Homo sapiens: one gene and its partner. The protein of the gene in region 2 interacts with the protein of the main gene of each other region in a pairwise test. Each region holds a gene or a part of one and is shown on either strand. Other genes may lie near its edges. The genes, in order: DCDC2 and PTPRCAP.

The links.
Region 1: the proteins of PTPRCAP (region 2) and DCDC2 interact in binary tests that used the Homo sapiens proteins (3 or more experiments, as listed by UniProt).

What each region holds. Positions count from the first base shown.
Region 1 is NC_000006.12:24,354,053-24,364,853, reverse strand, and holds the start of DCDC2 (doublecortin domain-containing protein 2), read left to right. Parts: upstream 1-6,794; 5' UTR 6,795-7,103; coding exon 7,104-7,396; exon of another isoform or gene 7,397-7,951; intron 7,952-10,801. UniProt on the Homo sapiens protein: Protein that plays a role in the inhibition of canonical Wnt signaling pathway. May be involved in neuronal migration during development of the cerebral neocortex. Involved in the control of ciliogenesis and ciliary length.
Region 2 is NC_000011.10:67,433,013-67,443,218, forward strand, and holds PTPRCAP (protein tyrosine phosphatase receptor type C-associated protein), read right to left. Parts: upstream 4,671-10,206; 5' UTR 4,608-4,670; coding exon 4,605-4,607; exon of another isoform or gene 3,339-4,604; coding exon 2,721-3,338; 3' UTR 2,498-2,720; downstream 1-2,497. Other genes in the region: RPS6KB2 (ribosomal protein S6 kinase beta-2), read left to right, coding at 1-30, 114-204, 328-435, 983-1,045, 1,186-1,263, 1,365-1,472, 1,570-1,682, 1,977-2,157; CORO1B (coronin-1B), read right to left, coding at 5,364-5,489, 5,659-5,937, 6,774-6,831, 7,106-7,251, 7,323-7,427, 8,113-8,232, 8,321-8,502, 8,721-8,850 and 2 more.

The DNA of each region.
Region 1 (10,801 bases), on a different chromosome or scaffold from region 2:
AGCTTGGTTTCCTGTGTAGGTGCACACCTCTGCACGTGGCTGTGCATTTTCTGTGGAAGCTAAGCAATTAGTCTTAGAATCTCTTCGGTTGTCAAGGACTGTACTTTTTTTTTTTTTGCTGATCTGAAAATATGTTTCCTTCTACAGGAGCATTTTCCAGTTTTTGAAGTTTTAGGTTAATTTTTAAACTTAATATATTTTCCTTTTGTTTATGCATTCATGAAATAATTATTTAATACTTACTATGTTCCAGCCTCTGTGCTAGGTACTAGTAAGACATTGATGAATAAAATGAACACAATCCTTTTCCTTAGGGAATTTATACATATAAACATTTAACTCTACAAAGATTAAACATGTAATTATATAAAGCTTTACAATTAAACATATAATTATATGAAGATTTGTAATTACGTAGCCAGGCATGGTGACTTGTACCTGTAGTCCTACCTACTTGGGAGGCTGAGGTGGGAGGATCACCTGAGCCTATGAGGTCAAGGCTGCAGTATGTTATGCTCATGCCTTTGAGTAACCACTGCTCTCCAGCCTGGGCAACATAGTGAGATCCCATCTTTTAAAAATAAATAAACATTTAAAAATTTATACTTATAATTGATAAAACCTATAGAGAAAAAATATGTAATATGTTGGGGGTTTATCCTGATCTGGGGAGTGGGGTAGAGAAGATTTCCTGGGGAACTGACATTTAAGTTGGAACTTGATCTATAGAGGGAGTTGGAAGGAGCCAAATAAATAGGAATGGGGGGATAAGGGGCTGTAAAGTACATCCAAAGGGATTTTAAAGGAAGCGATGGTACAAGTCTTCACTTTGGAGAGCCATAGGAAGATTTGCGTGAGAAGAGATGGAAACTAAAGCAACAAGAGTAGTATATTTATGGCTTTGTCATCAAAGTTGATGATATTGGATTTCACTGTAAGAGAAATGATAAGGATTTGAAGAATTTTAAGCTGGAAAGTGAAATGGATAGATCTGTGTTTTCAGCGACCTTTCAGGATGACTGTTCTGTGGAGAATGGATAATAGGGAAGCAAACTGGAGACAGGGTTACCTCTTAGGGGATGATGATGCCTTGAATTCAAAATGTGGAAATGGGTTTGGAGATAAGTGGATGGATTTAAAAAATATTTGAGAGATAGAATTGATAGAACTTGGTGATTAGTTGAAGAGCCCTTATAAACCTAGGGTGCAATGTGGTCTGGTTTTAGCACAGTATTACATCAAAATAAATATTGCTTAAGCAGAAATATATAATTGAAAGCATTTCAGAGATCTAGGCTCTTGAGGAAACAGCAAATGCCTTGTTGGTATTATTATTTTTCTTTTTGATTTTTTGAGACAGGGTCTTATTCTGTTACCCAGGCTGCAGTGTAACGGCATGAGCATGGCTCACTGCAGCCTCAACTTCCCAGGCTCTGATGATTCTCCCACCTCAGTCTCCTGAGTAGCTGGGACTACAGGAGCATGCCACTATGCCCTGATAATTTTTTTAGTTTTTTGTTTTTTTAGAGATGGGGTTTTGCCATGTTGGCCAGGCTGGTCTCAAACTGCTGGGCTCAAGCAATCCACCTGCCTCAGCATCTCAAAGTGCTGGGATTACAGGCTTGAGCCACCGTGCCCTGCTGGTGGTATTATTTTTAATGCACAGCAACACTTCTTTAAGAATCTTCTTTGGCCATCTCTCTCATTCTCAATGCCTTTCATATACTTAGGAAGAAGCTAAAATACAAAAACTCTCCCCTCCTTTCCTATGTGTGTTCTCAAACATTCCCTTGCATCCATCTGAAGCTCCTCATTCCTTAGCATTCCGCTCCTCATTCTACCTCAGCTCTTCGTGATCAGGGTTTATCTAACCTTTCTGGCTTCTTAAAGCCTTCTCACTTTGCTCAGTGTTCGGACTTTGCACAAGAGAGAAGAGCTCCAAAACCAATTCAGCAAGCATCTGGAGCAGGGAGAGAGATTGCAAATATCTGACTGTTTTTGTTGTTCCTCTGCCACAGTTAAATGTGTTCTGTGAAGAAGAGAAATGTATATGTTCTAGCTTTGAGCAAATGAGTAGATGAGGGTCCATTTGTGGAGACAGGAAACATAGGAAAAGTGATTTTGAGGAAAACTTGAGATCCCGTGAACGTTTCGAGTCTAGGCTGCCTTTTAGATGGTCTAGAGAAGCTGTCAGGAGAATTGTGTGCCTGGAACTGCCTTGTTCTGGCGTGTGAGGCAACTGTTAAATTCTCAGGAATTGTAAACATGGGCATTGTTAAAAAGTAATTTTATAAATATACGATTAAATAAAAAATAATTGTATAAATATACAATTAAATAAAAAATAATTGTATAAATATACAATTAAATAAAAAAATTGTATAAATATACAATTAAATAAAAAATAATTGTATAAATATACAATTAAATAAAAAATAATTGTATAAATATACAATTAAATAAAAAATAATTGTATAAACATACAATTAAATAAAAAATAATTGTATCAACATACAATTAAATAAAAAATAATTGTATCAACATACAATTAAATAAAAAATAATTGTATAAACATACAATTAAATAAAAAATAATTGTATAAATATACAATTAAATAAAAATTGTATAAATATGCAATTAAATAAAAAATAATTGTATAAATATACAATTAAATAAATTACATTGAAAACAAAGATAATAAATACTCAAAACTCATCTCCATCTACATTTTACTACTATCTGTGCTCTTAAAGTTACACAAGTCTGCTGTGCCTGCATGGTGGAAATACCATACAATGACTTGCTACTGCACATTTCATGGCTTCAGTGATGTTAGACTGGCATCTGGAAATTGGCCATATTTGGAGTAAACTACAGAGATTGGCAAATGCTATGAATTAAGGCCTTCTCTTCCCTCCTAAAAGCCAGCAGTTAAACACTTATCACCACATCATATCCAAGAGACATCTGGATAAATGAATCTAAGCTCAGGAGACACATCCGGGTTGGAGATACCGCAGTGGGAGGCATAGACTTGATGCGGGCAGCTTCATGGGCTGGCGTCAGGGTCCCCACATCAAGAAGGACCCCATGATTGGTTTAATGCTCTGCTGTTGCTAACATAAAATTCTTAATTTTTGAATAAGAGGCCACATTTTCATTTTACACTGGGCTAATATAGATGATAGGGAATTTTAGGTTGTTTGGGGAGGGGGCTACTTAATTGATTGCCTTCCATTTCCACATAACAAGTATTCTGTCTTACTCACCTATGTGGTAGCACATTTTCACAGGTATTTTCCCCATCCATCCCTCAACCTGTGCATTCTCCACAAGCAGCTCACAAAATTTCCCTTGTCTATTTCCTCCCTGTATTGTTCTCTTTGGCCTTCTTTTGAAATTTGTTAACTTTTTTTTTTTTTAACTTTCATTTTAGGTTCAGGGGTACATGTGCAGATTTGTTATATAGGTAACTCGTGTCACGGAGGTTTGTTGTACAGATTATTTCATCACCCAGGTACTAAGCCTGATACTCAACAGTTATTTTTTCTGCTCCTCTCCCTCCTCCCACGCTCCACCCTCAAGTAGGCCCCAGTATCTGTTGTTCCCTTCTTTGTGTCCGTGAGTTCTCCTCATTTAACTCCTACTTATATGTGAGAACATGCGGGTATTTGGTTTTTTGTTCCTGCGTTTGAAAACTGTTAACTTTCAAAGCATTAATGTATTACATGGCTTTAATAAAAATATTTCTTCAGAACAGAAATCTCGAAGGAAAAAAAAAGTTTCTCTCCAGATTGCAATGTCCCACACATTCATCTTTCACAGTGATATGACTGGTTATGGAGCTTGTGGAATAAGACAGAACTGGGTTTGAACTCTCTCTCTCTCTTTCGTTTTCTAATCCTTAGAATGGGTTTGAATTCCTGTGTGTGTGACCTGAGGTAAATGTCTTTGATTTCTCTACCCTTCAGTTTCCTCATCTGAGGAAAGAATAATATTTACCTCTGAAGGTTATTGTGAATATTAGATAATCTACATAAAGTGCCTTACATAATGCCTGGTCCATGGTTATAGTGTTCAATTAATGGCAGTTCTTTTTATTCGTACATGATGAGTTAGGAACACCCAGTAATTTGGACATGACACATGGTAGAAAAGTCTTAGGAGGAATGAAGGAAACACTGGCAGAGATGAGCTGCAAAATTTCAACTCTTTAAACATTTTCCTGGTGCCACAATATGTATGTCCCAGACTGGACTGGACAAAGCGACTCTTTACTGGGGCTGTTACTATTCTCACAACTCCTCTCCCTGTTATTCCTCAGACAGAGCTAACAATCTACACAAATAGCACAGATGTGGGCTCTTGGACAGCCAGTCAGACATTTAGCCTTCTTGCGGCAGTGAAAAAATCCTTTCCCTGGCGTAAAGCTTGGCACAGGGTAGGCACTCAAAATTTTGTAGGTTTTCCTTTTCACCGCCGTGGCCCCAACTAGCACAGGGCCTTGCACACAGCAGGCGTCCATTTACTGAATGAGCGCATGATGAATGAGCGCATGATCATGTCACCTGTTTCTCCCTCTTCCTCCAAACCCCTGTTCTTCCGCCTCTGCCCCACGCAGCCAGCATATCCCAAGGAGCCAGGCGCAAGCCAGGCCTGGTTCACTGACTCGCTCCCCGCGCGAGGCTGCGGTTGCTATGGAAACAGCGGGAAATAACAACTCCGTTCCCCTTGGGTGAGAGAGGCCCGCAGAGGTAACAGCAGCTGGAGGAACAGCGTGAGCGGCGCGCAGCCGCCGCAGAGTTCACCACTGTGCCACCCGAGCCGCACCGCCCCGCCCCCGCGCGGCCGGCGCCCGAGCTCCCCTCCCCTCTCCAGCACGCGAGTGTCGGTAGGTACTACGGCGGAGGGCACCTCCTGGGCCCGCCTCCCCAACCAGGGCCCCGCTTGCGCGCTGCCTGCTGTCTTCACGTGATGCGCACCCGAGCTTCGCCGCCAGGCGGCGCTGATCATCGGGGAGGGGGTTAGGGGTCCTAGACACGCGAGTCTTCGCTCTGTTTCTCATTCATTCATTCATTCACTTAAATGTTATTTTTCCCTTCCTTCCTTCCCTCCCTCCTTCCGGGATGGGGTCTTGCTGTGCTGCTCAGGTTGGTCTCAAACTCCCGGGCTCAAGTGAGCCTCCTGCCTCAGTTTCCCAAAGTGCTGGGGTTACAGGCATGAGTCACGGTACCCGGATTCTCTCTTTCTCTCTCTGAATATATATAATATATATAAAATATATATATAAAAATATATAATATATATAAAATATATAAAAAATATATATAAAATATATATAATATATAAAATATATATAATATATTATATATAAAATATATATTATATAGTATATATAAATATATATACTATATAGTATATATAAATATATATAATATATAATATATAAAATATATATAATATATAATATATAAAATATATATAATATATAATATACATAAAATATATATAATATATAATATATATAAAAATATAAAATATATAATATATATAAAAAATATAAAATATATAATATATATAAAATATAAAATATATATTATATATAATATATAAAATATATAAAATATATAAAATATATAATATATAAAATATATATAATATATAAAATATATAAAATATATATAAAATATATAAAATATATAAAATATATAATATATATAAAATATATAATATATATAATATATAATATATAAAATATATAATATATAAAAATATATGATATATAATATATATGATATATAAAATATATAATATATATAAAATATAAAATATAAAATATATAATATATAAAATATATAATATATAATATATAATGTATAAAATATATAATATATAATATATAATATATAATATATAAAATATATAATATATAATATATATAATATATAATATATTATATATATAAATATATATAATACATATATATTATATATATTATATATAATATATAAATATATATATAAATATAATATATATATTTATATATAATATATAAAATATATATTTTATATATTATATATAAAAATATATAATATATAAATAAATAAATAAAATATATATAAAATAAAATATATAAAATATATATATAAAAAAAATATATATTTTATTTTCTAAGACAGGGTCTTGCTGTGTCGCCCAGGCTGGAGTGCAGTGGCAAAATCATAGGTTACTGCAGCCTCGACCTCCTGGGCTCAAACAATCCTCCCGCCTCAGCCTCCGAGATAGCTGGGTCCACAGGCGAATACCCTGCCCACCTACTTTTTTTTTTTTTTTTTTTTTTTAATTGTAGAGACCGGGTCAGGCTGGTCTCAAACTCCTTGCCTCAGGGGATCACAGGCGCGTTATAGAGACGGGGGCTTTCCCTGTGTTTCCCAGGCTGGTCTAGAACTCCTGGTCTTAGGCAGCCCTCCCGCCTGGGCCCCTCAAAGTACTGGAATTTGCAGGCGTAAGCCACCGCATCTGGCTTTGCACATTTATCTTCCAGCAAAGAAAAACCTGGGCAACTACATCCAGGAACTTAATTGCTTTAATTTGGGAGCAAGCAGGAGATTGAGGGGTAAAGGTGCAAGAAGAGAGAAAAGAAAAATTAGGCTGTTTGGAAAGGGTAGCACAGATATGATGTAAGAAATTGGGTTTCACCATATTTGTGTGTGTGTGTGTGTGTGCGTCCTCCTCTCTCCTGCCCTCACTAGGCGTGCCTGTTTGAAGGCCCCGCGCGTTTCCGGCTCCTGCTCAGAAGCTGTCCACCTTGATTCTGCCCGTAGCAGGTGAACCTGGTGTGGTGCGCGCACTGCGGGTCCTGATTGGCTGTGCACGCCACGGTGAAAAACTTGAGCGTCTACTCCGAGTCCTGCAAGCTCCTAGTGTCTCCTCTGGGTGGACGCCTAGGCGCACGGCCGTTACTTCTCTTTCACCTGTGGATTCGTCAGTTTCTCGTTCGTTTCAGGAGGCGATCCCGCGCCCTGGGTGCGGTGAGGCCGCTGGGACAGCGGAGGTGCCTCCCGACGCGAAGCAGCGAGCTGAGGCGGCGGCCAGCGGGGAAGATGAGCGGCAGCAGCGCCAGGTCCAGCCACCTGTCTCAGCCCGTCGTGAAGAGCGTGCTTGTGTACCGCAACGGGGACCCCTTCTACGCGGGGCGCCGCGTCGTCATCCATGAGAAGAAGGTGTCCAGCTTCGAAGTCTTCCTGAAGGAGGTGACCGGCGGCGTTCAGGCACCCTTTGGGGCCGTCAGGAACATCTACACCCCGCGGACTGGCCACCGAATCCGGAAGCTAGACCAGATCCAGAGCGGGGGCAATTACGTGGCTGGAGGCCAGGAAGCCTTCAAGAAACTCAAGTGAGTCGGTCTCCCCCACCGCCCACCCATTTAGGTGCCCTATAGTGTGGGGTTGATATGAAGAAATGCAGATCCCTACCCCCCCACACCTCAGTGGTTGAGGGGCTGTGACTTCTCGGTGTGATTGATGCCCCTCAAAACTCTCGTTGCAGTTGGGGGGTAGAGGTTGACACTGTGACTGGAGAAGGAATTTCACTTGGGTCAGCAGTAGGAGTAAACTTAAAATCTGTGTATAAACAACAGGAATCTTAAAGAAAATAAAAAGGTATCCTTGCAAAGGTTAGTGACCAAACTGATACTTTTGCGTTTTCTGTTCAGTTTTTTCTTTCCTTTTCCTTATTTTTTTTCCTTGGAAATCCATCCTTTTAATTTAAATAAACATTCTTAAAAATCACTTCCAAGTGTTGGACACTATATTGTCACCAGAGGAGAAAATTGCTCTGCATTTCCCGTACTGTTTAAATTATTTCAACCTTTCATTCCAAGTAGAATTGACAACACTCACTTTTGTGACCCTGCTCCCACCCCCTGCATGTTTATGCTGTTAGCATAATGCAGGAAGAGTTTACTGGCTGACTGTATTTGTCGACTGTCTGTCTCCAGCAACGTGATTAGACCTTCAAGGGCAGGGGTCCTTATTCCCAGCTCTTGAGCTCACTCATAGTGAGTGTTCAGTGAATTAAGAAACCGTCAGTTCAGGGAACAAAGATGAGCAAGGCATGATTCCTTGTCTTTAGGAGCTTTCAGTCTAACTGGACTACCTGCACACTAACAATTTTAATGCAAGCTACAAAGGGATATGTGCATAGAAAAATAAAGTTATGTGGGAATTGTGAGTTGAGAGTTGGTTGGGGTGGTCATTATAGGACAGGTAGAATTTTACATTCCATTTTTTTTTTACAGCTTTATTGAGATAGATTTCTCATGGCATGAAGTCCAACCATTTCATTGGCTTTCAGTGTATTCAGAGTTGTGCAACCATCACCACCAACTAATTGTAGTTCATTTCCACCCCTCCCGCCAAAACATTTGTACCTCCCAGTTTCCTCTGTCCCCTGTCATCTGGAAACCACTAATCTATTTTCTGAATCTATGGATTTGTCTATTCTGGACATATCATATAAATGGAATCATACGGTATATGGTCTTTATGTCTGGCTTATTTCACTTACTGTAACATTTTCAAGGTTCATCCATGTTGTATCATACATCAATACTTCATTCTTTTTATTGTTGAATAACATTCCATGATTTGGGTATATTACCTTTTATATCCATGCTTATCCATTTATCAGTTTGATGTATATTTGGGTTGTTTCACATTTTAACTATTATGAATAATGCATCTATGAATATTTGTGTACAAGTTTTCATTTCTCTTTGGTGTATACCTAAGAGTGAAATTGCTGGATCACATGGTAACTCTGTATTCCATAGTTTAATAGAACATTTTAATTGAAATTCATCTTGGGCCCCAGGATAGAAAAAAGCCTTGACCATAAATCTAAGCTTATGAATTCATAAGCATTATTGGATTCTTAATAATTAAAATTCAAATAAAGTCTTATAACTACATAGAAATATTTTTCAAAATATCACTAAAATTCTTGAATGTAATCCTTCTTCTCCTATATTTGTTTAAATTGAGTTCTAGGTATTCTATTATACTTTTTGTTACGTCAGACATTCTTTTCATGGAAAGTGAGGGATATATTTGGATTTATTTTTCCCTCCCCTGAAGCTTCTTAAGCATGCTTTGTTAAACTTCGTAAAAAAGGGCTAAATGAAATTGCATGCTTAAAGGAAACTTAAAACCAGGAGACTGAAGACTGAGTTGCTCATCAGCTCTGTGTCCTTGGGCAAGTCGCTTGACTCAGCTAATCAGTTTCTTAATACAGAAAAGGTGCATAATCATTTGTACCACACAGGGCTGTGATAAAAAGTAAATGCTATAGATGTGTGTTTTGTAAACACCAAAGTGTTACATAAATATAAGACACCTCTATGACCAGTTCCTTTTGTTACATACTTTATTTTTTATTAAATATTTCCGTCTAAAGCAATTTCGTGGAAATGAAAGTCTGGTTCAGAATCTCTGAACGGCTGAAAATTGTAGACTCACTTTTATAGTTCATGTTCTTTTGTTTATTTGATCCTACCAACTCACAAGATTAAAAAAAAAAGGTACAGTTCCACACCAAATAAAAAAGTGTACTCAAGTCTCTCTAAGAGATTTGCATGTTATTTTTGCTTTCAGTTCATACACAAAAAACTGAATTTGTTATAACAGTGTCCATGGTTAGGTTTCCATGCTGACAGATGACTATTTTATTTGTGTTAAAGAAGTAGTATCTACGGTTATAATGATAGAAGCCAAGAATACTTGAATGTTGAATATATTTGAAACTTAGCACTTATAAGTTTATGTAAAGAATGGAGAAACTGTCAGAACAAAAGAAAGCCCAAACGATATTGAGGACAATTCGTGGGCTTTCATTTAGACCCTAAATGTTGGGAAAGACAGCAACATCTTTTTCAAATGGAACTGATCAAATCGCTGCTTGAATTGCTTTCACTTAGATTTTTCTAATATTTTTGAAACGATAACTAAACATCAGGTAGCTATTAAACCCTTATTTATTTCAAATGTGAGACCATACATTCACAACCTTTATTTTACAGCAGAGGATTCTAGAGAGTATTTCCCCCAAAACTTTCCCTGTGCATTGTTGGAAGTTGACTCTGCAGCATTAATCTTGTGGATCTGAAACCACTTTCCTGCACATGACAGAATATTTTGGTATTATTTCAAAACTCAGCCCCTGCAGGTCCACAAAAGACCCATTTTATTGCTAAGACGGAGTGTTTGCACTGTTTTAAAAATATGACTACTTTTATATAGGGGCATTGTATGACAATTTCCAGAGATATGAATTAACTAAAGTATTTTATCCAAAAAGGCAAACAGCAACAATAAAAACATTTCAATAGCCAAAATTAATTCTAACATAAGCTTTTTTTGGGACAAGTTGGCAATTGTAGTAGTTGGGGTAAAGGATTGATCTATCATTATAAATTATATGTTAGATTTATACTTTTTAATATTAAAATGTTTATTTAGCACATTTTATGTATGAAGCACAGTTTAGGGACCATTTAAAACTGGAACCACATCACAGTGATATTACACGTGAAGTTGACAAAGGTATACAGTTTTCAGGTTGTGCTTATGTAACAGCTAAAGAATGATCACTGTTAGTATCTAGAGCAAATAGTAATGGAATAATAGGGGTCTCCAGAGGTTAACTAGTCCACCCATCTGTTTCTTAGCTGAACCAATTACCAAAGTCATCCCACATGAGTGAGTGTTTTTGTATCATTAAGGTGCTCTCATAGAGACAATAA
Region 2 (10,206 bases):
TCACACCTTCTGCGGCACCATTGAGTACATGTAAGTGGCACCTGGCTGGCCCAGGGGTCGGGAGGACAGCCCGAAGGGGCACGGCCTGACTGACAGTTCCACCTGGACCCCAGGGCCCCTGAGATTCTGGTGCGCAGTGGCCACAACCGGGCTGTGGACTGGTGGAGCCTGGGGGCCCTGATGTACGACATGCTCACTGGATCGGCAAGTCCAGCCCCCGGGGAGGAGGAGGGGCAGGGGCAGAGGTGGGAGTAGCCCCCCTCCTGGGGCAAGGGCAGGGCCTGGTGGGAGGCCCACAAGGCTCCTCTCACCTTCCTCCTCCTCCAGCCGCCCTTCACCGCAGAGAACCGGAAGAAAACCATGGATAAGATCATCAGGGGCAAGCTGGCACTGCCCCCCTACCTCACCCCAGATGCCCGGGACCTTGTCAAAAAGGTGCAGCTCCCTTCTCTCTTCTCCGGGGCCCTGCCAGCCATTCTGCACGTGTTCCTGAGTCTCTCTGGGCTGTGGGGAAGCCAGGGCCACCCCGGCCTGTGCAGTTTGCCTCTGGGAATGAAAGGAGCCCCTCCCTTGAAGTCAGGGATTGAGCCCAGGTCTCAGCCCTGTCACAGACCAGCTGCTGCCCTGGCCCAGTCCTTAGGCTGAGTCCTAACCAGTGACACGCTTGTGATGAGCTGGCCACACTTCCGTCAAAGGCGAGCATCGGAGGTGTTAGGGGGAGGCCGGACAGCCACATGGGGAGTTGGCGCCTCACCAACGCGCCCTGGGGCAATGCCAGGGCCCAGGAGCCTCTGCAAAGCCTTTGTGGAGAAGGTGGCTCCATTGACCAAACCTTGAAAGCCCTGAGGGTATCCATAGGTGGGAGCCACACCCAAAAGCATTCTCTCCCATGTCACCTGACCCCTACTCCAGCTAGCCCTGGGACCCGGGGACACATGAGCAGTACTTGCCCAGGCCCTCACCCTCTCTCCTGGTCCCGCAGTTTCTGAAACGGAATCCCAGCCAGCGGATTGGGGGTGGCCCAGGGGATGCTGCTGATGTGCAGGTGGGTTTGGGACCACCACCAGGGGTAGGGCTGAGTCTCCAAGGGTGCCGGGAATGGGGGCAGGGCCCCAGGGCAGAGGGAGTGACCGGGGGGCAAGCAGGGTGAGCTGTTAGTGGGTTTGGTGCATTCTCTACCTACAGAGACATCCCTTTTTCCGGCACATGAATTGGGACGACCTTCTGGCCTGGCGTGTGGACCCCCCTTTCAGGCCCTGTCTGGTGAGCAGCAGGGCTGGTGGCCAGTGGCCGGTGGCGGGTGGCAAGTGGAGAACCTGCATCTTGGTGCCCTCTGACCCCTCCCCACTCTGGTCGGCCCACAGCAGTCAGAGGAGGACGTGAGCCAGTTTGATACCCGCTTCACACGGCAGACGCCGGTGGACAGTCCTGATGACACAGCCCTCAGCGAGAGTGCCAACCAGGCCTTCCTGGTGAGTGCGGGGGCCTGAGGCCTGTGGGACCAGGGCACGGATCGTGACTAAGGATGGCAGGCACTGAGTGTCGCATGGCCCTGCCTCCGCCCCCCAGGGCTTCACATACGTGGCGCCGTCTGTCCTGGACAGCATCAAGGAGGGCTTCTCCTTCCAGCCCAAGCTGCGCTCACCCAGGCGCCTCAACAGTAGCCCCCGGGCCCCCGTCAGGTACTGAGGGACGTGGGGGTGTGTGGCTGGGTTAGGGACGCTGGCAGGCAGGATGCCAGCTCCAGCCTTGGGTGCCTTGGCCACGTCTGTCGGCCAGTGTTGGCTTCGGTTGCTGTGTCTATCATGGGGACCTCAGTTCCTACACCCCTTGTGGCCAGGCTGCCTGGATGGGAGTTTGTGGAGCCCGCGGCCTGTGTGCCTGGGCAGGTGGGAAAGGCTGCCTTCCCTGACTGAGTGCTGGGAGCCTCTGGCAGGGCCTAGGAGGCTCTTATTCTGCCTTGGTTTCCCCTGCAGCCCCCTCAAGTTCTCCCCTTTTGAGGGGTTTCGGCCCAGCCCCAGCCTGCCGGAGCCCACGGAGCTACCTCTACCTCCACTCCTGCCACCGCCGCCGCCCTCGACCACCGCCCCTCTCCCCATCCGTCCCCCCTCAGGGACCAAGAAGTCCAAGAGGGGCCGTGGGCGTCCAGGGCGCTAGGAAGCCGGGTGGGGGTGAGGGTAGCCCTTGAGCCCTGTCCCTGCGGCTGTGAGAGCAGCAGGACCCTGGGCCAGTTCCAGAGACCTGGGGGTGTGTCTGGGGGTGGGGTGTGAGTGCGTATGAAAGTGTGTGTCTGCTGGGGCAGCTGTGCCCCTGAATCATGGGCACGGAGGGCCGCCCGCCACGCCCCGCGCTCAACTGCTCCCGTGGAAGATTAAAGGGCTGAATCATGGTGCTGACCTGGCTCTTTGTGCTGCATGCCTAGGGGCAGGGTTGGGTTGGATTGTGCCAGGAGGAGCCCCTGGTCCAGGAGGGAGGGGTCTCTGTAGGACCACAGGGCCACAGGCTGAAGGAGTTTTATTTCAAATGGTTGCCTGATGCCTGTGGTTGGGGGGGGCCGTTCCCGTGGTGAGCGGGGTACACATGGACTTGGGAACTGGTAGGGGGTGACAGTCTGAGGCATGGTCATGTGGGCTGGGGGTCCAGTCCAGCCATGGCATCTTGGGAAGCAGAGGCACGGGGAGTGAGCGGCTGTGACAGGGATGGGACACCAAGACCGGCCTCTACAGTGCGGTGACATGGAGGCCCTGGCCCCCAGCTGCCCTGGCGCTGTCATCCCAGGCTGCGCTGCCAGCAAAGGCGTGCAGGTCACTCAGCAGGGCCTCAGCACTGCCCCCTGCGCTCGCTGGTCCTGGGGAGCCGAGGACCAGGTCGCCCTCCGTGTCACTGTCTCTGGCTTCCTCAGCCCGCACGGGGACCTGCTCTGGGCTGGACGCCTCTCCACATTGCTGCTCGCCTTCCCCAGGGTCAGCCTGCAGGCCACCATCCGCGACGTGGTCATAGTCTGTGTCCTGCTCATCCTCCTGTCGCTCAAGGTCATTGTCTGTGGACCCCAGCTCAGCTCGGGCCTGCAGCCAGCGACCTGGGGGGCTGGCCCAGAGCAGGCGCCGCGTGCGGCCCCACAGCGCGGCACCTAGGCGGGCCGGGTGGTAGTAGCCCCCTGAGTCACGGCTGAGGCGGCGCCAGGCCAGTGCTAGGCCAGTGGCCAGCAGTAGGAGCAGCAGCAGCAGCAGGACAACGGTGACAGAGCTGGAGCCCACGCTGTCCTCCGCGCTGCCACCCGAGCCCAAGGCCCCTGGCAGGGCCAGCAGCATCCCGAGCCCTAAGGTGCAGGGCAGAGCCTGTGGGAGACAGGCAGGGGCTCAGAGGGCTCAGCACCTGGGGTGGGGCCTGGTGTGGGGCAGGCTGGGTGACCAAGACCACTTTCGTTTTTTTCTCTTTGGGATCCTCTTGGGACAGCCAAGCAGAAAAGGCCAAGGCCTTATTTGGTCAACCAGGCTCTGGCCCTGTGAGATCAGCCCCCATCCCTCCAGCCTCCTCCCTACCACTCACCTCCCCCAACAGCTGCATTAAGCCACCTGCCTGGGGCCTTCGCACTGGCTGTTCCCTCTGCCCGGAAAGCTCCACCTCCTCCCATCCTCCCCTCCCCCGGGCTGCATGGCCTGCTCACCGTGCTCAAACTTCACCCCAGTGAGGCTGAACCTGACCTTAACCTCTACCCTGATGTCTATCACTGCAGCCCACCCCAGCACCCCCCAGCACTCAGTGCCTTTTTCCTTCCATGTCACCTAACGCAGGAGATAACTGTACTCATTTTTTATGTCTATTGTCTTATCTACCCCCCACAATAAGCTGCTAGGAAACGGGGGCTTTTTGGGTCAAGCATGTTAGTAGGTGCTCAATAAGTATGGATTAAATGTGTCTAGGCTGCCTGGGTGGGTGGGAGAGGAGATGGGAGGGAGGGAAGGAGGTTGCTAGCTGGTGTCAGGGCTGGCTCTCCCTGAGGCCTGGGATGGGGGATGGAGGGGCCTGGATGCACCCAGAGGCAACTGCTCATCTTCTGCTTGGCCAGGTCCCCAAACGGGGGTCCGTGAGGCCCCTCTTCCTCCCTCCCCACCACGGGGCTGCCCCAGCGGCAGGGTTTCCGTTCCACTCCCAGTCCCTGAGGGCCACAGGCGTGCAGGGCCGGGGGCTGGGGGGGGCTGGGGGAGGCGGGCGCAGCTGCCAGAGGAAGTCTGCGGTCGGAACAGGCTAGGTGGGGGGTGTCGGGGGAGGGGTGCTGAGGTGCAGCCAGCCTCCCCCACCACCCCAGGCTGTCCGCCCAGGCTCCAGGAATGCAAGTTCCCGCTCACAGGAAGACCAGGTAAGGGCCTTCCCAGGGCTCCTGACAGGGGCCTGGTCCGGTATGGGGTGCTGGGGGCCAGGCCTGGAGTCCCAGGGAGCCCAGCTCAGGTGAGAGAAAGGTTCAGCCTCTGCCATACTCCTCTTAGGTCTCACCTCTTCCCTGGGGCCAATGTGGGGCCCTCCTTAGCTCCACAGGCCCAGACATTCTAGCCCCGACCGCCTGTGGCCCCCATCCCAAGAACCCGGGGGGCTCCGAGGCTTACCATTGGTCCGCAGGCCCCTCCGTGCCGGGCACCCACCTCCAGCTCTGGCTGTGTCGAGCGAGAAGTGAGCTCAGTGCTCGTCTGCAGTGAAGGGTGGCCCAGGCTTCCGCTTCCTGCCCACATACCCCACCTGCCCCTCCCTGCTGCAGGACCCCTGGTCCACACCAGACCCTCCCCAGTCTCTCTGGAGGAGGCTGGGCTGCCGGGCCTGTCCTCCAAGGAAGAAGCAGCACCAACTTGAAGCTGGATGCAGCCTTGCATGTGTTCTCAGGTCTTCTGCCTCAGTTTCCCTGCCTGACAATCCAGGGGAGCAATGCCTGTGGGGCTGCTCACTGCCCCCAGACCTTCTGCACATGTGTGACTCCTGTGACATCCTCTGTCTCCAGGTTTCCAGACTTCTCAGCCCCACCCTTGCAGCAGCAGGTCAGCCTGGCTTTTAGAAAGAGAATTTTATTTGGAATGAAAATATAGAGCCCACCCTCCCGCCTCCTCTGGGGAGGGAGCAGAGGGCTGGGCAGTGGTCGGGGAGATGGTCCCTCAGAGGTCGAGGAGCTCGCCTGGGCGTAGACATCCTCCACAGGAACAGTGAGGAAAGCTGGGCGCTGGCTTCGGCCTGGGCCTGGGACGGGTGGGGGTGGGAACTGACCCCTGCGCTGCCTCAGAGGCTCTGGGCAGCCAGCTAGCCCGGTGCGACCCGCTGGCAGAAGCTGAGTGGGAAGGGGGCGGCGGAGGAGATGAAGGTGGCGTGTGGCTGTGGCCCTACGCATCCCCGTTCTCCATGCGGCCCAGCTGCTCCTCCAGGCGGCAGATGCGGTCGCCCTGCTCCTTGACCAGCGCCCTCAGGGCCCGCAGCTCCTGCATCACCTCCTCCAGCTTCCCAGCCTCCTGTGGGGACATGAAGCAGGGGTAGGGGGCGGTGGTCAGGGGCTGCTAAGCCATAGCCCTCCCAAACCCACCACTACCCCAGAGAGGGACAGCGAATGGCTGAAGCCCACACAGCAGGCCAGGGCCACACCTGGGGCTCCCAGCACCACCCCTGCCTGCGCGTGCATACCCCGGCTCTGGCCAGGCTGCCGCTGGGGGTGGCATCAGCAGCAGTGGTGGTGGAGGCGGGGGCCCCTAGGTGGGAGGAGCCCGGGGCCATGGCGGGCCGGCTGTCAGACAACACGTTGCGCCGGCTGATCTTCAGGTCCCGCTGCTTGCTGGGCACGTAGGCCTCCCGCAGTGAGATGAGGATCGGGTCGGCATCCCGCCCGCTCACCCACTCCTCAGCCTCCAGGGCTGCCTCGGGCCCGGCTGTGTCGGGGTACAGATCATCCTGGAAGAGGTCCGACTGGGCAGGGGGCCGGGGAGGTCAGGATCAGTTAGGAGGCCCCATCAGGGTCCCCTCATCCCTCCCCTGGCCTCCAGGCTTGCACTCTGTTAACCCATTCTCCCACGGCCTGGAAAGCTCAAATCTGGCCTTTAACTTCCTTTCTGGACACCATCAACAGCTCCCTCGGAAGCTTTCCCACCCTTCTGAGCAAGGCCCCTGTCATCACCTTCCCCTGCAAGGCACAGGGGCCACTATGTGGCTTTATGGGATTCTGGGGCCCATGGACTGTGAGCTCCTGGAGCAGGCCCTATCAGCTCAGCTCCACTCCCCAAAATGTGCCTGGCATGTTGAAAGAGCAGTCGGCAAATGCTGGCCAGAGAATCATGGAAGCGTGTCCGAGGCTCTTGGCATCTGAGGCCAAGCCACATGTGGCCCGGTCCCCTCTTCATGGGATTCCCCACTGCAGCCAGACTCCTTGTTCCTCTCTCCATTCCCACCACTGTGCCCTTCGCCTGGCCTGCCCCCAGTGGATGGCGCCACCCCAGCTGTGTTATGGGTCCTGCCTCCTTCAGGAAGATCTGTGTGGCTGCCACTCCCTCCCTGACTGCCTGGTGTCCTTCTCCTGTGGCTCATCCAGAGCAGGGCCCCTGCTCACCCTCTGTCTCATCCCCACTTGCCCCCTGACTGGCACAGCCCAACAGCTGGCTGGTACAAGGGCAAGCTGGCATCTGTCCAGCTCACTGCCCACAAACCATACTAGGTCATGTTCCATTCACAGGCCTCGCCCTGGTCACAACTGCATGGCCCGCTTGCTGGAGAAAGGGCCAAGTGAGCCGAGGGACGGGCGGCCTCACCTTTCTTGGCACAGTCATGACGATGGGCTCACACTTGCGCTCATGCAGTTTGTAGAACCTGGGGATGCAAGGAGGAGCCACGGGTGGAACCCTCACCGCCCCCCCCACCCACCGCCAGCTCTCCTGGCATCCTCCACTTCCAGTCCTCACCCCAGGACCTCCGCAGGCCGACCCCTAAGGTGGCTAGACCCCCACACGGGCTGCCTCGTGACAGTTCTCATGGCCCGCCGGGCCTCCCTGGCGCAAGGTTTCCTGCTCCCAAGCAGCCTCCAATGACCTGACCTCTCACCTTAGATGCCCCTATCCCCGAGTGGCCTCGGTAGCCCTCTTACCGGGCGATCTCGCACTTGCTGACCTCCAGGCCCCGCTTGGGCATGCTGCCCATACCCCGCTGCGGCTCCTTGCTGGTGAACGTGTTCAGGAAGTGGATGTAGGGAGGCTCCTCTGTGATCTCAAAGTACCGGATGCTGGAGTCACCCTGTGTGGGGAGGGGGCTCAGCACCTGGGCACGCCTCTTCCCTGCCCCTCGCCAGCCCTGCCCAGCCCCACCTTGCCGCAGACGTAGACCACACTGGTGTCGGGGTCGTAGAAGGGCAGCAGGGCCCCGTTGCTCGAGTCCAGTTCCTGCAGGGCCATGGGTTCCTCGAGGTTTTCCTGGCACATTGCAGGCAGTCAGGCCAAGCAGAACCTCCTCACCCCCTAATCCCAAACCAGGACGGGCCTTAGCTGGCCTCACTAAGGCCAGCCAGCACTGCCCCTAAATGCAGGTGGGCCCTCTGCCATCTCTATGCCTTTTCCCACATGACGACCCCCACCTGGCCCTCCTGGCTTCACTTTATTCCCAGGGTCCCTCTTTTCCAGCCTCCTCCAGGCCTTAAGACTATGCCCAGGCCACTAAGCAAGTGCTGAAACATACCTCACTGTGGGGAGCTGGGGTGCCAGCGGCACCAGCCCCTGCTCAAGGTGCCCTGGAGGTCACTATGCAGAAGCAGAGAGGGCTGGGGCCAGGAGGCTTGCTGGAGGAGGAGGCTTTCTGGAGGAGCGGGGAGCCCTGTGCAGGCAGTGGGTGGTACAGGCAAGCAAGGGAGAGAAGGGCCCTTCCGTTGGCATGAACAACATGGGCAAAGACACAGAGGCAGTGGGAGGCCATGGGGGAGTGGTGGGGCAGTCGGGCGAGCAGGGGGCAGGAGAGGAAAGTCTGACAGAGTCCTAGGCCCTGAGAGCCTCAAGTTCCAGGCAGAGAAGCTAGGAACCACAGGCCTCCCCAGGGTGAACCCTGCCTGCCTGGCCCAGGGTGGGGCCCAAGTCTCAAGTTTGCCCCCTCAGGCTGGCCACTCACTGGGTCCCAGAGCGCCAGCTGCCGCTCGCTCATTCGGCTGAAGCCTGTGGTGAACACCTTGCCATCTGCCAGGAAGATGGCCCGCATGGGCCGGGCCCCCTCATGAGCCTTCTCCCGCTCCTGTCGGGGGGACAGGCTGGTCAGTGCAGCGCCCTGCTCAAGGTCCTGGGCCTATCCACAGCCATCCTTGCCCTCCAGAGCCACGTACTGCCACCAGGGTGCCCCGACGGGGGTCGATGATGCGCACGCTCTTGTCCTTGCATGCTGAGCAAAACAGGCTGCCATTGTGGTTCCAGCTGACATTGTAGATGAGGTCAGGGTGCAGGCTGTCCAGGCGGTACAGCTCCTCCGCTGTGCCCACATTCCAGATGAGTACCACGTTGTCGCAGCCTGGCAGGTGAGGGTTGTCAGCTCGGGCCGGGTGGGTGGCAGGAGGCCATTAGCTCACCAGGCTGAGGCCCACTCTGCCCACCACCCTGGGACAGACGGGTCTCTCCAACTCTGAGGGCCTCAGCTTTCCCATTTGTCATGTGGGCCCTGGAGGGGCTGCTGGGATGTATGGAGGGGTCCGTGGGGGGGGGGAGCACAAAACGGGGGGCGGTGCAGACCTGCACTGAGCAGCACGTTTCGGGCCGTGGGGTGCCAGGCGATGATGCCCACTCGCTTGGTGTGCCCCTCCAGTACCACCACCGGCTCTGTCAGCGGGGAGGTCAGCCCGTTCTCTGGGATCTGCCACACCTGTGGTAGGGACAGGGCCACCGAGCTCAGTCCTCTGCTGGTCCTATTGCTGGCCCCCTTCGGCCACACCCACGACCCTGGCCCAGCCAGTCCTGTGCCTCACCATGACCGTGCAGTCCTCCGAGCCGCTGGCTATGACTTCGTCGTTGTGAGGACACCAGTCGATGTCCAGGACAGGTCCCGTGTGCCCACACACCGTCGGGTAGGCCTTGTCAATGCGGCCCGTCTGTGGGCACGAGGGGGCAGTCAGTGGGCTCCATCCCTCCCGAAGCCTTGGTCTTCCCCTCCATGGAGTGGGAATGACATGCACGTCCCGGCTCACAGGTGGCCCAGATGTGACTGTGCCCCACTTGCCAGGTGAGCAGGAAATGTTTGCTGCCTCTAACCCTGCCTCTATGGCAACAGGCTACTTTCCATCTGTGCTAACACTTGGGGCGATAAATCTGGGTTATAACACCTGCCCAGCAGTGTGAGAAACGGCAAGATGAGGGATTCAAGGTGTGCAGAAAGGCCCAGTAGGGGTGGCCGAGGTGCCTCCTCTTCCCCCAACCCTGACAGGACCCACCTTGCTTAGGGGGAGCACCAGAAAGGCACCCCCTCCACTGGCCTCCACAATCACCGCCAGGAACTTGGGGTTGACGGCGCAGAAGGTGCTGTCCCAGGTAACACGGGACACGCGAATGTCCTCATAGCACTGGTCGTTCTTGACCGGCTGCCCGAACACATGCCGGAATTTGCTCTGCCGGACCACTTTGCGGAAGGACATGTCTGCGGGACAGAGAGGCCTGGGTCAGTCCGGCCCATCCCAACAACTCCAGCCCTCCCCAGGCTGCTGAAGGTGAGCCGGGAGGATGCAACCGGGGGCCAGGCCACCGTAACCCTCCTGGGTCTCGGTTTACCCAGTTACAGAATGGGGTCACAGGTGCAGAGCCTGGCCGCCTGTCACCCCGCAGGCAGTGATCTGAGAGGTAAATGCTCCGGCCCTGACCACTGCTGAGTCCTGAGGGGCTTTGCAGGACGCAGGGCCCCTCCCTGGCTCTGGTGTGTGTCGGGGGCAGGAGGTGGGAGGTGCCGGGGTTGGAGAGCTCTCAGCTCTACTGTAGGTCCCAGCCAGTCGGGAGCAGCCTCCTTCCTGCTCCCAGAGATTTGGAGGCTAGGTAATGGGGAAGAAGGAGAGAGGAAGCAGGAAAAGTCTCTCTACTGTGGGGCCGAGTGAGTGCCCAGTTCTGAGTCCCAGGGAATGTCCAGGGAGCCCCGGCATGGCCCCCAGGAAGGGACGGGGTCGGGACGCAGCTGTGGGCCGCGAAGCAACCCAGAGCGGCCTCGAATCGGGGTCCAGGGTGAACCAGGAGCCCA